Homo sapiens: one gene and its partners. The protein of the gene in region 3 purifies or fractionates together with the protein of the main gene of each other region. This does not show direct contact. Each region holds a gene or a part of one and is shown on either strand. Other genes may lie near its edges.

What was found.
Region 1: the proteins of GSKIP (region 3) and RP2 purify together in Homo sapiens (affinity purification with mass spectrometry; one large-scale study listed by BioGRID and IntAct). This does not show direct contact.
Region 2: the proteins of GSKIP (region 3) and PLS1 purify together in Homo sapiens (affinity purification with mass spectrometry; one large-scale study listed by BioGRID and IntAct). This does not show direct contact.
Region 4: the proteins of GSKIP (region 3) and TPD52L1 purify together in Homo sapiens (affinity purification with mass spectrometry; one large-scale study listed by BioGRID and IntAct). This does not show direct contact.

What each region holds. Positions count from the first base shown.
Region 1 is NC_000023.11:46,846,694-46,850,837, reverse strand, and holds part of RP2 (protein XRP2), read right to left. Parts: intron 1-4,144. UniProt on the Homo sapiens protein: Acts as a GTPase-activating protein (GAP) involved in trafficking between the Golgi and the ciliary membrane.
Region 2 is NC_000003.12:142,686,600-142,690,743, reverse strand, and holds part of PLS1 (plastin-1), read right to left. Parts: intron 1,127-4,144; coding exon 931-1,126; intron 1-930. UniProt on the Homo sapiens protein: Actin-bundling protein. In the inner ear, it is required for stereocilia formation. Mediates liquid packing of actin filaments that is necessary for stereocilia to grow to their proper dimensions.
Region 3 is NC_000014.9:96,383,885-96,388,028, reverse strand, and holds the end of GSKIP (GSK3B-interacting protein), read right to left. Parts: intron 3,406-4,144; exon of another isoform or gene 3,217-3,405; intron 2,507-3,216; coding exon 2,345-2,506; 3' UTR 741-2,344; downstream 1-740. UniProt on the Homo sapiens protein: A-kinase anchoring protein for GSK3B and PKA that regulates or facilitates their kinase activity towards their targets.
Region 4 is NC_000006.12:125,156,359-125,160,502, forward strand, and holds part of TPD52L1 (tumor protein D53), read left to right. Parts: intron 1-4,144.

The DNA of each region.
Region 1 (4,144 bases), on a different chromosome or scaffold from region 3:
TTCCATAAAAGTAAACATTCATCTAAACTAAAAACAACTTGACCATGTAATGAGAGATGCTGAGAATATTTTGGAGGGGACAGAGAAGGGACATCTGGGGCGGGGAAGAGAAGTGGGGCGGAAGTTCTGCAAAACATGAGAATGGATAAGCTAGAGCTCATTAGGTAAAAGGGGTAGGAATAAAGGACCCTCCCTTCCCATGCCAGGCAAAAGTAACAGACGGAACAAAGTAAAATTCTTCAGGGAGTAGGAGGAAAACTGAAAGTAGTTTGGTGTTACACATGCTATCAGAATGCTAGTAGATGAAGCTACAGAGGTAGGCAGAAACCGTATTATATAAAGCTTAGAAGTTATCCACAGACAAGAGGGAACCACAGAAAGATTTAAATAAGCAAAATTTACATGTCAGGATAATTACTCTGATGAGATAAGGACACATGCAACATGGATTGATCGGAGAGACTATTGTAGTCATACAGAAAGGGCTGGAACCAGAGCTGTAATTAGTAGGGAAGAAGAAGATGGGATGAATTTGAGAAATACTGAGGAAACAGAATCAGCAGACTGGTAATTCAATGGCTGTAGGAGGTAAGGCAGAAGGATGAATCACAGAGGAAAGGCCATGTGAGGACACAGCAAGAAGGCAGCTGTCTGTAAGCCAGGAAGAGAGCCCTCACCAGACACTGAATCTGCTAGCACCTTGATCTTGGACTTCCCAGGCTCTAGAGCTGTGAGAAATAAACTTCTGTTATTTAAGCCACCAGTCTGTGGTATTTTGTTATGGCAGCCTGTTTTAGTCTGCTCAGACTGCAAAAGCCAACCTCTTGCTATGTCATCACCAGACCTGTCCTCTGTGTGAAGGAGAGGGAGGGAGCAAGTGCAAGCTAACTGAATCTTCTTATAAGGACACTAATCCTATCAGATCAGCACTCTACCTTTATGACCTCACTTAACCTTAATTACTTCCTTAGAGGTCCCATCTCCAAATACAGCCATGTGTAGGGGGGTAGGGCTTCAACATATGAATTTGACAAACATTCAGTCCATAACAGCTGCCAATGCTGAGGAGTTAAATGTAATTTACTACCCTAAGTATTTTCTCTGGACGCTCCACTTTTCCTAGCTCATAGGGAGAAATTAATCTGATAGCTAAAGATTTTATAGCTAAATAGTTCTGTAGTATAAAATTAGTTGGATTGTCAGCACGGCCTTCCAAGGAGAAATTTAAGATTTATGTTGCTGTACTTTCTCAACAATTCCTGAAAGTTTTTCAAAACAAAAAGCATTAGGAGCTAGACACAGTGGCTCACATCTGTAATCCCAGCTACTTGAGAGTGGGCCAGTGGCCTAGTGAGACTAGGAGTTTGAGACTGGCCTGGGTGACACAGTGACACTCCCCTAGCTCTAAAAAAGTTTTTTAAAACTTAGCAGATTATTTGAAGTGAGTTGGTGGAAGGGGGGTAAAAAAACACAAAAACCCTTAGCTGGGCATGGTGGTGTGCGCCTGTAGTCCTAGCTACTCAGAAGGCTGAGGCAGGAGGACTGCTTGTGCCTGGGAGTTCAAGGCTGCAGTGAGCCATGATCATGCCACTGCACTCCAGCCTGGGTGACAAAGCAAGACCCTGACACTTTAAAAAAAAAAAAGTAATAATAAACAACTGAAACTGAAATCCTTCGTAATTTTGCAGGTTACTAGTTCTGAAATAAAGTGTCTAGAATCACAAACATGGAAAGGTCATGTTTTAAATTATTTTTTCCTAAGAGCCACTTATGAAGTGAGTTTAGTTTAGACTGTATTTTTTTTTTCTGACACAGGGTCTCACTCTGTTGCCCAGGTTGGAGTGCAGTGGCACACTCACAGCTCACTGCAGCCTCGACCTCCACCGTTCAAGCAATCCTCCCCGCCTCAGTCTCCTGAGTAGCTGGGACTACAAGTGCACACCACCATGCACAACTAATTTTTGTATTTTCTGTAGAGATGGGGTTTCGCCATGTTGTCCAGGCTGGTCTCGAACTCCTGGACTCAAGCGATCCACCCACCTCAGCCTCCCAAAGTGCTGGAATTACAGGCATGCGCCACCGTGTCTGGCCTAGACTATTTCTTACTACAATCCTTAAAAGGTAATGGATATACTTTAAAAAATCAAGGAAAGTGGCCAGGCGTGGTGGCTCACGCCTGTAATCCCAGCACATTGGGAGGCCGAGGCGGGTGGATCACCTGAGGTCAGGAGTTCCAGACCAGCCTGGCCAACATGGTGAAACCCCGTCTCTACTAAAAATACAAAACTTAGCTGGGCATGGTGGTGGGCGCCTGTAATTCCAGCTACTTGGGAGGCTGAGGCAGGAGAATCGCTTGAACCCAGGAGGCAGAGTTGCAGTGAGCCGAGATCGCACCACTGCACTGCAGCGTGGAAGACAAGAGCCAAATTCTGTCTCAAAAAAAAAAAAAAAAATCAAAGAAAAATTTCAAGAGTTGTAATTCGTCTGATATCAATTTAATGTCCTACAGCTATTAAACCAAGTTAAGCATTATTTTCCTAACAGAAAACAAAAATGAACATCTTATTATCTTACTAAGCGGCAATACAAATTTTTCATTAAAATTCATCTCCACAGTTAAATTTCCATAATGATAATGTGAGATAAAATAATGGGATTTGTTAATTCCAATGAAAATCCAGTCTGAATAGAAGTAAAAAGATTCAGGAGTATAAGAAGCACTATATATGTACCAGGCACCATACTAAGTGCTCTATAATCATTCACTCAATCCATAAAAACCCCATAAGGGTTGTGTACTATAATTATCTCTGTTTTATACTTGAGAAAATTGAGGCACACAGAGACTATATAACTTGTCCAAGGACACACTGTGAGTCCATATATATATATATATATATATATATATGTATATACACATATATGAGTCCATATATATGTATATACGCATATATATGCGTGTATATATATACACACACATATATACACATATATACACACATATATACACATATACACATATATGTGTGTATATATATACACACACACATGTGTGTATGTACACACACACATGTGTGTATATACACACACACATATGTGTGTATATACACACACACATATATGTGTGTATATATACACACACACATATATATAGTGTGATCGATATAGATATATATATGTAAAGAGAGATATGCCTGTTTATGAACTCTCTATTCCATTGATTTGTGCATCTAGTAAGCAATTGTTTTGTATATGTATGTATATATATACACACATATATATGGTGTATGTGTATATACATACATACATACATACATATACATATAGTGCAGTGAACCGAGATCGCGCCACTGTACTCCAACCTGGCGACACAGCAAGACTCCGTCTCAGAAAAAGAAAAAAAATTCCTAGATGTGAAACCAAAAACACAATCCACAAAAGAAAAAGTGAGTGGAAATTGGACTTTTACTCAAATTGAAAATGTTTGCTCTTCAAAAGACACTCTTAAGAGAAGGCAAGTTATTAACTGGGAAAAAAGTATTTGCAAAACATATATATAACAGGGGACTTGTATCCAGGACATATAAAGAGCTCTGAAAAACTCAATAATAAGAAAACAAATAACCCAATAAAAAAATGGGCAAATGATTTGAATAAACATTTTACCAAAGATATATGGATGGCAAATAAGTACATGAAAAATGCTCAACATTTAGGTAAATACAAGTCATTTGGGAAATGCAAGTTAAACTACAATGAAACATCACTACACACCTATTAGAATGGCTAAACATTTTTTTTTAAAGCTAGGCGAGGTGCAGTAGCTCACAGCTGTAATGCCAGCACTTTGGGAGGCCAAGGTGGGACGATCGCTTGAAGCCAGGAGTTTCAGACCAGCCTGAGCAACACAGCCAGACCTTGTCTCTACAAAAAATAAAAATATTAGCCGAGTGTGGTGGCAGACACATGTAGTGTAGTCCTAGCTACTTGGGAGGCTGAAGTGGGAAGATTGCTGGAGCCCAGGCAGTCCAGGCTGCAGTGAGCCATGATCATGCCACTGTACTCCAACCTGGGAGACTGAGCAGACCCTGTCTCTTAAAAACAAATTAACCTGACAATACCAAGCAAGTGATGTGAGGATGCA
Region 2 (4,144 bases), on a different chromosome or scaffold from region 3:
GCTTCAATGAGGTTCAGTAAATATAACATAGCTAATTGATACAAAATAATATGTTATAGAACCTAAATGAATCCTTTCAAAGATTACTTGACATTTTGTCACAGGAGAAGGATAAAGATTTTACATCAAATCATGAATTCCAGTTCTCAAAATTGAGTTCTAATGTGTTTACAACTACAATATCCCATCATTATAGAAGGCAAATTAGGTAGAAATTTTACAAAATCAAAGCTTTGTTCTGCTATTCTAATTAAGTTTTATTTGTGTTTCATTCTATGGGCATATTAAGAGAGAAATAACACAGCATGAACAATGCAAAAAGTAAAATATCAACCCAGATGGAAAGAATAAATGGTACTAATAAAAAGAACATTCAGAATGAATATATTTATAGAGTATAGAAAAGTACTAAATACAGTACCTACATTAGGAGGGGTCAAATCTGCATTTCATGAAGCAAAACAGGAAAGTATTATATATTATGAGACAGATAACGATAGACCACACAAAAGACAAATAACGAACACTGTAATTTTTTTCATGTACACTAAAAACCTTAAAAAGAGAACAATACTAGAGTCAAACTGGACCTTTCAAAGGAGAAAAACACCTACAAATAATTATTTTATTCTAATAGATAATTCATTGTCCATGTTGGTGGTAGAGCTGTTATGTGATCATTTATGAGAATATTTTAAATGTATGATAGTTTTCACTAACCTCTTATGGAGAAATAAAAGATTTACCCCAGCATTCTCTTTTAACCAAAACCAGCAACCACCTTCCATAATTTTAATTTTTCAATAGATACACATACCTACACACACTAAATTGCATTTCCCACCACAATCCCCTATCTCTGACAGTGAAGTAAGACAATACCATAAGAAGATAAATATAGCAAGTCAATTAAAGGCAGAAAGAACGCACCTTCCAGTAAATTCATATCGATGTCATTATTATTCGGCTTGTGCAGGCACGGGTATGTGTTAAACAAATTAGCTACAAAAGCTAAATTAAGTTTAGGATTGCCTGAAACCACATCTGCAGGAGTAACAAACTGTTTGCAGCCCAGTTTATCTGCTTCTTGAAGCATGAGTCCAGCACGCTTCAGGTCATTTGTCTCCTAAACAATAAAACAAAAATGGTTACAATTGAAGTTTTAATTGGCATAATTTTTATTGGTATACATGTTTATAAGCAATTACTTTTCCACAAATATATCAAATAATAACTCAAAATAAGATCAAAATGTGTAGTAATTCCAAGTCAACTTACCCATTCCTTTATTTATTTATTTATTTATTTATTTATGTATTTAGAGACAGAGTCTTGCTCTGTTCCCCAGGCTGGAGTGCAGTGGCGTGATCTTGGCTCACTGCAACCTCTGCCTCTTAGGTTCAAGTGATTCTCCTCCCTCAGCCCCTGAGTAGCTGGGATTACAGACACATGCCACTATGCCCAGCTAATTTTTGTATTTTTAGTAAAGACAGGGTTTTGCCATGTTGGCCAGGCTGGTTTCGAACTCCTGATCCGCCCACCTCGGCCTCCCAAAGTGCTGGGATTATAGCCGTGAGCCACTAAGCCCAGCCCCCGTGCCTTTTAAGTTAAAAGGAAAAAAGTCTCTGAATTTCCTTGCTGGGATAACTGAGTTATATTTTACCCTTTTTGCTAAAATACTCAGCAAAATCCTCAAATATTGTATCAGTAAGCTCCTACTGGTTGCACTATAGATAACTTATTCAAGACCAGCTAGTAGAGTGCCCTCTGGATAACAGGCATAGTTATCATACCCACTGTACACTGAGTGACATTTCCAGAAGGCTCTTCTTGATGAAAAACAAGTTGAAATACATATTTTAAAAATTAAAATCATAGGGAAAAGCACCTTTCACAATTGCAAAACCCTGGAAACAAATGAAACAACCCAAATACCTATAAACAGGAGAGTAGATGAATGAATTTGTATATTCACACAATGACATCCAATATGGGTAACTCTTAGAGATACAAGGCCAAAAAGAAGTACTAGAAATTTAAGTATAACATGATAAACTTTAAAGGAAGTTAAAAAGTAAAATGAAGAATTTAATTTTGTAAGGGATACATTTGGATGAAGGGAAACTACATAAAAAGAAAAGCAGAACAACAATGAACACAAGATTCAAGACTGTGGTTACCACACTGGGCGAAAACCGAGGTGGGATAGGGAAGAACTGTACAGAAAATGTCACGTCAAAGTTTTAGTTTTCCTGTTAGATTGAGAGTTCATGAGGCTTGTTACAATTTCAAAACAAACAACCACACACAAAAATAAATTTAAAAATGGGTATGCACAGACCCATATGAGTATATCATGACCAAAGATAACCTACCTAATTCTGTGCACCAGAGTTGCAAAATAATTAATCATATAAATGAAATCAGAGAAAGCAACAGATTATTAAATTAACAAAGAAAAGTTACCATTGTAGACATCAAAAAATGACAATATGTGGCTGGACGTGGTGGCTCATGCCTGTAATCCCAGCACTTTGGGAGGCAGAGGCAGGCGGATCACTTGAGGTCAGGAGTTTGATACCAGCCTAGCCAACATGGTGAAACCCCGTCTCTACTAAAAACACAAAAATTAACCAGGTGTGGTGGTGTGCACCTGTAATCCCAGCTACTCAGGAAGTGGAGGTAGGAGAATCACTTGAGCCCAGGAGGCGGAGGTTGCCATGAGCCAAGATTGTGTCACTGCACTCCAGCCTGGGCGACAGAGCAAGACTCCATCTAAAAAAAAAAAAAAACAAACAAATAAAGACAACATGTGGACCTTATTTTAGATCCTAATTCAAATAAACTATGAAAAAAATGGCATTTATGAGGCAAGTGGAAATGTCAACATTGACTAGATATTTTGATGATGTTACAGATTGTTGTAATTTTTTTAAGGTATGATAAGGTATTGTGGTTTTATTTTAAAAGTGTCTTTGTCTTTTAGAAATATATATTGAAATATTTATCCATGAAGTAATGTCTAGGATTTGCTTCAAAATAATATAGGAGAGGAGAGAAATAGGGAATAAACGAGATAAGATTGACCATGAATTGGCAGATGTTGAAACTGAGGGATGAGTACCTGATAGTTTAGTATACTAAGTCTGTTCTCTTGAATATATTCAAAATTTTCCATAAGTTTAAGTTCCTAATTTTTTTACTTAAAATGATTTGCACATTTTACAGAGCGTTGCAATACTGTGTTTCTGAAATATGTCATTATAATAATGTGAGATATAATTAATTAGTAATGACTCAAGTTGCCTTTAAAACCAAATGTTACGGACGCCGCACTTTAAGTACGTGATATATTTTCATACAGTCTATTATCTGACCAAATTTTAATGTTTAGAATTCAAGTTTGTCCAACCCACGGCCGGTGGGTCACATGCGGCCCAGGACAGCTTTGAATGTGGCCCAACACAAATTTGTAAACTTTCTTAAAACACTAGATTTTTTTGCACCTTTTTTTTTTTTTTAGCTCATCAGCTATTGTTAGTGTTAGTGTATTTTATGTGTGGCCCAAGACAATTCTTCTTCTAATGTGGCCCAGGGAAGCCAAAAGACTGGACATCCTGATTTAGATAGAACCATCCCTGGTATTTATAACTTATGCTAAAAGAATGAGATTCCTAGGAAGTATGCTTGGTAGGTCAGAATCTGTATCAGTCCTTCCTACACCATGAATATCTATTTTTATTTTGTAGATTTCTAAATATAAGCTGGTAAAACTGATAATTGATTGCTTAAAAATCTAACAACAGGTTGTTGCTTCCTTTCCTGGCATATGCTGACAGTCAAAAGAGCACCCTGGTGAGTTCCAATTGCCTTGCACCAGGGAAACATGAATGTAGGATTGATTCCACAAATACTCCAGGTCACAATTACGCAGTTCCCTTTCTTCCGTCATGATAGCCAGTTGGCTTGACATGGAGGCTTGGAGCCTTGGGCATGGAAAAAACTTCCATAGAGCAAAGCACCAAACTTTAATGGAGGGCTGAGGGCTCTACTGGGGAATGCTGCTTGTAGAGAACTGTACTCTAAATTTGACTGTACCTGCTACTGAAATTCAAATTCATAGTCAAAAAGTAGAACAGTAGTT
Region 3 (4,144 bases):
TAGCAGGTGAAATGACCCAATAACTTAAAATTTCTCTTTCTTGAGTTAATGGTTGGGTTGGGCCTCTTTCAAGTAGTTACTGACATCTATTTTTTTTTCTGAGTTGACCATATTATTTGCCCACTGTTTGCATTTTTTCTTCCTACTGATTTGTAAAAGTTATTTATATAAAAGTTTTTTTTTTCTTTTTCCTTTAGAAGTGAAATCAAGGCTTAATTTATCTGGTTAAGTTTTATAATTTTCATTTTTTTTTTTTTTTTTTAAGAGACAGGGTCTTGTTCTGTCATCCAGGCTGGAGCGCAGCAGCACGATTGTAGCTCACTGCAGTCTCCAATTCCTGGGCTCAAGCAATCTTCATGCTTCAGCTTTCCTAATAGCTAGGACTGCAGGCATGTGTCACCAGGCCATGCTTTTATAATTTTTTGTAGAAATGGGATCTATGTTGCGCAGGCTGTCTTGCACTCCTGGCCTCAAGTGATCCTCCTGCCTGGGCCTCCCAAACCACTGGAATTGCAAGTGTGAGCCACGACACCTGGCCTATCTGCTGGTTAAGTTCTTTAAACAGACCAGGTAAAATGGAGGTTTTAATATCTAGATTCTCATGTATATCTGTGTAGTTTTATTAATGTCCTCTCCTCTTGTTCCTCATTGCTCTTTCATAGTAGTAACAAGAGAAAGCTCACTTCAGTCATTTCAAATCCAAATGTAACAATGCAGAATTAAAAAATGGAAACAAGCTCTTGGAATTAATCATTTATCACAAAATGAACAATTTCAATTCTTAAACATACAATCACTTTTTTTCATACTAACTCAAAATGAGTAAACAGAATTTTATTCAAACTTTACAAATATCATTTACATTTAGCCTGAGATTAAACATGAGAAAGTTCAACCTGAAGTTAGACTTCGTTGCCCAGTTAAGCATCTGAAAATAAAGCTGAGAATGAACATACATCATCAAACAAAGCATTCCAATGAAGTCTGGCAATGAATTGTGACACAAACTGAACTTTAATTTGCTCTGGTCCACATGATCTTCAGAGCCTAAAAGTTCCTGTTTTTTAATAATGATGGAAAAATATCTGCAAATGATAAATGCATGAAGGTATGACCAGATGCAAAATTTTAGTTCAACATTTCTATAGCAGCTGCTTTAGGTGACCATTAAAAAACAACTCCCCAATCCTTACTGTTCAACATGTACTTGAAAACATGCAGCAGCATGGTACAGTTTATTAAATTTATAAATATCAGTACCTGTAATAAAATATAAAATACTGACTATTCCTTTTTCAAATATTAAGTCTCTGAATGCTTCATTCATCCTTTGGTTTCAAACCCATACAATGCACTCATATTACATTGTAGATTTCGAATGGAGACAGAACACTGTACATCTGTTGGGGAAGGTGGGGTGCTGTAGGAATACCAAAGCACTACATCATAGAAAGTAAACGTTGAAGCAAAAATACTTTCTGAATATATACTGTACATTATGTAAACACACATTCAGAATAAGAATCAACACAGGCCAAAATATTGTTTTCTAGGAAACCAGAATCTTCTTTCTTTTAAATCACACACTGAAGATGCTTTTTTGTTAAGAAAAAGAATGAAGTCTGTTCCTGTATTTGCTTATGTGCTTAGATATCTTGGAAATGAGTAATTATTACATTCATTTGCTAACGGTTTATCCTCTGCTTAGTTGGCTGGCTGTTGCAAACACGGAATACAGAACTATTTCAGTCCCTGTTTTTCATTTAATACTAGTTAAGTAATATATAATTAATTCATCTTTATTAATCCATTATTAGTAATATAAATAGATTAAGTGAAGCAGTGAATTTCAAAATTTGTGCAGGGGAAACTAGTTGATAATTTGTTTCCAATAAGGCTGGTAGCAATTAATTACTACAAAGTTTGTCCAAGCTAGTATTGAACCCCTGATTTAGCAGGCTGAATCAAAGTGTATAGTTAGGTACTTCTAATTCCTCTATTACTGTGCAAATCTAGAATTTCCTATGTAAAAGACAGTGCTGGCAGCATCAAAGCCCTGTAATAGTATGAAATAGTGATTAGGATTTGAAATGAAGAGATATTATATGAAGACATGTGAATGTCTTAATGATGGTATCATAGCAACGGCCTCAGAATTCCCTTACTGAAACAGAAACTAAGACAAATCATTATTCAATAATCTTCTGAGCCAAAAGCCTAAGTTGGAAGCAAGTGATAAAAACACAAAACCAAAGATGCATTTTCTATGACCATATGCAAGAATTTTAAGCTTTATATCAACATTCTGTACCAGCACCAGCCCCTCTGAAAGGAAAAAGTGTAGTCATGACTGTCCATCTCTTTTCAAAGCTTCCAGTCTTTGAAGCAGTGCGTTTCCAAATGCTTCTCGGTAGGCGGGGCTGAGTGTATCCAACAAGGAGTAGACTGTTTCATGGTAGGGAGTCTGTAAATGATCATCTACCTGGTCAAAAGCATAGCCTACCACCTACAAGAGAAATGCAACAGTGAATTCATTAGTTTTCATGTTGGTACAGAAAGCAAAATCCAAGTGTTTATGTGAGTAATCATCCTTTCAAAAAAATAAATTATTTCTTTTCCTAGCCACTAGACCACCAGATACATGGGTAACTGAGTGAAACTATTTCTCAAAGTCAGAGTATACACATTTTAAATACAACCTTTAATACTTCAGCAACTTATAATGTATAACACAGAAACACCACTAAAATGCTCCCTATAGAATTTTCAACATTTAAAAGGTTTTACTTAGAAGCTCAAGGAAATGCAGAGAAAGAATTTGAAAAGCTACACAAAAATGGTATTTCATTTTCATATTCTAAAACATGCATCTATTATTTACCCCATTTAATTCCACATATATTGAGGGTCCACTATATTAAGTACTATAATAGGTAATATATCATTAGTTCATATTTTTTTCATTATTTTTCACTTCTTTTATAAACAATTCTAAAAATTATTCCTAATAATTTAGTTTTAATAATTAGTTGTTAATTTTAATAATTGTTTATTAATAATTGGTTTAATAGTTTATTAGTTTTAATAACTGTTTAGCTTTATTATTAGTAATCTGAAAGGCCACTTTCACCTAATATATTTCTTACCTGACAGGGAATAAATGCTCAATTCTGTGAGATAAAAGAACATGTTAATGTGTTTTTTTTTTCTTGGTAGGGGTACACTATTTCTGGAGGTATTTGCAATACCAGGTCGATGTGTGAAGTTAATGGAGCAAGAGCCTATTCTATCTCCCTGCTCCAAAAATCCATTTAATATATTGTCCTTAGATAGAGGACATAACAGATATTAAACTGATAAGAAAAGATACTCCAATTGATCTTAGGCAAAAGGCTGACAGGCCATGTGTTTTTCTTTTTTTTTTTTTCCTGTGAACACAGCTACAACTTTTCTTTTTGACAAGATTATAAGGTATATCATGGTTCACCAGCACAATATAGGGCAAAATTAATTTAGTTTTTGCTGACTTAAGTGTGTACATTCCCTATATAAATCCTAAATTTTTATGACATCTATTTAAGCCATAGGAGGTGAAAGTTTGTGTTAGAAATAGAAGCTGAGTTTTTTTTTTTTTAAATGAAAAGCAGAGGCAGACACCTAAGGAAAATGAATCACACCTCTTCAGATCCATGCTCTATTACTGCACTCTCTACAGTGGAGTACAGTTCAGTTTGCCTTCTTCCTCTTATCTCTGCTAGACTGTGATCTTCCTGGTGGACAGGGATCATGTCTTATGCATGGTTTGATTTTCAATTGCTGACACAGGATAGTTGCTCAATAAATGTTAACTGAATCAGACTGAAAAACAAACAAATATTTGAGCACCTACTACATGTCAGGTTTTACATATGGTTCAGATCTTTCTGTATCATACAGTCATATAATCATTCCCCAAATCGTTTTAAGTTTTTTTTAAATCTCCAAGTTATAGATTAAGAAGCAGAAACTCTCTCAGGGGTAGACGGACTCACTCAAGATCACTTAAATTCACATTTAAGACTGCTGACTCTCTGATCAGAACTCCTTCTACCTCTCCACAGTCAACTTAGAATTAACCAACACAAGACAGAATTATCTTACTAAT
Region 4 (4,144 bases), on a different chromosome or scaffold from region 3:
GGAAGGCTGGAGTGGGAGGATTGCTTGAGGTCAGAAGTTTGTGGCTACAGTGAGCCAAAATCCCAGCATTGCACTCTAGTCTGGACAAGAGTGAGACCTTGTCTCAAAAAAAAAAAAAAAAAGAGAGAGATACAAAAAAGGCCAGCCACACCTGTAATTCCAGCACTTTGGGAGGCTGGAGGAGACAGATTTTTTGAGCCCAGGAGTTTGAGATCAGCCTGGGCAACATGGTGAAACGCTGTCTCCACAAAAAATACAAAAATTAGCTGGGTGTGGTGGTGCGTGCCTGTATCCCAGCTATTTGGGAGGTTGAGGTGGGAGGATCACCTGAGCCCAGCAGGTGGAGGCAGCCGTGAGCTGTGATTACATCACTGCACCCCAGCTTGGGCGAGAGGGCAAGACTCTGTCTCAAAAACAGATAAACAAAAAGAGAATAACAACAAAAAAACTTAAGAAAAGTCAAAATTGGATTGAATGTGAAGGAGGGCAGTGTCAAGGATGACCAGCTTCCTACTTGTACAATCAAATGGAGGATAATTACCTCTTAAATCTTTATTTGCCTAGCATTTTAAGATTTTCATTTTCAGACTTTTTGTTATTTATAAAGCAGAGATATTGAGTTATTTAAGAAAAAACTTCTCACAAACTGTTTATAGCATATATTAAAGGGAAATCTTTTTTCCACTTGCACATTTTTTCTGGCTAAATGAATGATTTGCCTCTTAGATTCTAGATAAGACAGTTCTGTGATTTTTAAAGTGTAAGTTTCCACCTTCAGCACAGTTTATTTTAGAATTACCTAGAGTGGAGATGGCTTGTCTTTCTGCCTGCTAATCTAGAGACAGGTAAAGATAAGTGAGATTAAGCAGGCAGTTGCTGATGAGTTGTACCTCATATTGTCCAGGAAGACACCAAGGTGTTATGGACATGATTCGCCCATATAGCTCAGTAAGTGCAGCAACTTACTGCACTAGAAACTTTCCCATAAGTGAAATTATGCAAATATGTTCTTTGACTTTGTAAAATAATAGATTACTTCCAGCAAAACAAGAGGACTCTCAGGGGAGGTGGTAGGACACTAAACAGGAAGTGGGATTATGGGTGGAGCTGTTCACTGAGGAGGGCTGGAGAACAACGTGGAGAGAGATGTCCACAGGAGAATGGCATTCCTATTTGCTTTCCTCTGGTACCAGATAATTTTGCTTTAAGACAACTGATATGTTAGAGAGGGAATTGGGTTGGAAATGTAGCATTTTCCCGAAACATACAGTAGTCCTTTAAAATAAAAACTTCCTGATCCTTTTAAACTACCCTTCAATATTTTATTATTCTAAATGGAAATAACTTTGTTGTTTTCACCTTTCCCAACGTCTTTAATGTTACAAGGAAAACTGTCTCCTTTTAACATTTGCATATATTCAAATTAATAACTATGTTAGTTTCTCAAGGCCACTGTAAAAATTACCACAAACTTCGTGGCCTAAAACAATTAACATGTGCTGTCTCATTGTTTGGCGGTTAGAATTCCAAAGGCACTATCACTAGGCTGAAATCAAGGTGTCGGCAGCGCTGTCCTTCCTCTGGAGGCTCTAAGAAAGAAATCGTCTTTCCCTCTTTCAGTTCCTGGTGGCTGCCGACATTCTTGGGCTGCATCACTCCAATCTCTCTGTCTCCGTGGTTATGCTGCTTTCTGTTCTGTTCGCATCAAACCTCCCTCTGCCTCTCTCTTATAAGGACACTTGTGATTTCATTTAGCACCTACCTAGATAATCCAGGATAATCTCTCTCTCTCTCAAGACCTTTAACTTAATCACACCTGCAAAAGGTAACATTTCCAGGTTCCAGGAATTAGGATATATTTAGGGGCCATCATTCAGTTTACTATAATAACTATTTTTTATATCCACTCAAGAAGAGTCTCAGATGTCCATGAATGAAATAAAGCAATAAATATCAGATTAACCCTACTGTTTGCAAAGTCCTTTAAATGAAAATGTCATTATACTTTACATTATACTTTATACTTACATTATAAGTATACATTCTACATTATACATTATACTTTACATTATACTTTATACCTTACATTATACTTTGCTCACAGAACATTTATATAATTTTATCTTGTTTCAGGAAGTACATAAGGCAGTTTATATGGATACTTGAAATGCAACAAGATAATGTAAATTAAAAATAGATGAAAGAAAATAAATGAGGATAAGAAGAGAAAAGGAAGCAAGGGATGAAGCTCTAGAAAAATGAATATAATCACATTACTTTTATTGATATTGCATGGAAGATAAATTCTTACTTTATAAAGGAAGTATGGCATTTTGTTATAAAATGATAAAAGAACCATTCTTCCTTCTGTCAAACAGCAGCAGGTCCAGTCTCTTATACAGGCATACCTTGGAGATAGTGTGGGTTCAGTTCCAGATCACCCCAAAGAAGTGAATATTGGAATACAGCGAGTCACACACGTTTTTTGGTTTTCTAGTGCATATAAAAGTTATGTTTATACTATACTGTAGTTTGTTAAATGTGCAATAGCATGCTATCTAAGAAAAGGTACATACCTTTATGTAAAAGATACTTTTTGCTAAAAATTGCTAACGATCATTTGTGCCTTCACTGAGTGGTAAGTGTTTTACTGGTGGAGGGTCTTGCCTGGATGTCGATGGCTGCTGACTGATCCGAATGGTGGTTGCCGAAGGCTGAGGTGGCTGTGGCAATTTATTAAAGTAAGACAACGAGGAAGTTTGTCACATAGATTGACTATTCCTTTCAAGAAGATTTATATATAGCCTGTAATGCTGTTTGGTAGCATTTTGTCTGCGATAGAACTTCTTTCAATATTGGAATCAATCCTCTCAAGCCCTGCCACTGCTTTATCGACTAAATTTATATAATTCTAAATCCTTTGTTGTCATTTACACAGTGCTGTGAACATCTTCACTGGGAGTAGATTCCATCTCAAGAAACCACTCTTTGCTCATCCATAAGAAGCAACACCTCATTCATTCAAGTTTTAGCATGAGATTAAAATGTCATAAATTTAGTTACATCTTCAGGCTCCACTTCTGCTTCTTTTGCTGTTTCTACCACATCTGCACTTCATTTCCTCCACTGACATCTTGGACACCTCAAACTCATTCAGGAGGGTTGGAGTCCACATCTTCCAAACTCCTGTTAATGTTGATATTTTGACCACCTCCCATGAATTACGAATGTTCTTAATGACATCTAGAATGGTGAATCCTTTCCAGAATGTTTTCAATTTATTTTGCCTAGTTCCAACAAAAAAATCACTATCTATGGCAGCTGTTTTCTTATGAGATGTATTTCTTAAATAATACGACTTGAAAGTCAAAATTACTCCCTGATCCACAAGCTGAAGAGTGGATGTTGTGTTAGTAGACGTGTGAGCAATGTTAATCTCTTTGTACATCTCCATCAGAACTCTTGGGTGACCACGTATGATATTGTTTGGCTGTGTCCCCACCCAAATCTCATCTTGAATTGTAGCTCCCATAATTCCCACATGTCATGGGAGGGAGCCATTGGGAGGTAATTGAATCATAGGTGCCGGTCTTTCCCATGCTGTTCTCATGATAGCAAGTCTCACGAGACATGATGGTTTTATAAAGGGGAGTTCCCCTGAGTATGTCCTCTTGCCTGCCACCATGTGAGATGTGCCTTCCATCATGATTGTGAGGCCTCCCCAGCCATGCGGAACTGTGAGTCCATTAAACCTCTTTTTCTTTACAAATTTCCTAGTCTCGGGTATGTCTTTATTAGCAGCATAAGAATGGACTAATACAGGTGTGTTATCAACCAGAAGTAATATTCAGAAAGAAATATTTTTTTTCTGAGCAGTAGTTCTTAATAGTGGACTTAAAATATTCAAGAAACCATATTGTAAACAGTTACCCAGGCTTTGTTATTCTATTTATAGAGCACATTTTCTAAATCTATAGATTTAGAATAATTATTTATTTATTTGTATTTGCATTTTCATAGATGAAAGGTCTTGCTCGGTTGCCTAGGCTGAAGTACAGTGGGATCATCATAGCTCACTGACACCTTGAACTCCTGGGCTCAAGCAATCCTCCTGCCTTGGCCTCACAAAGTGTTGGGATTACAG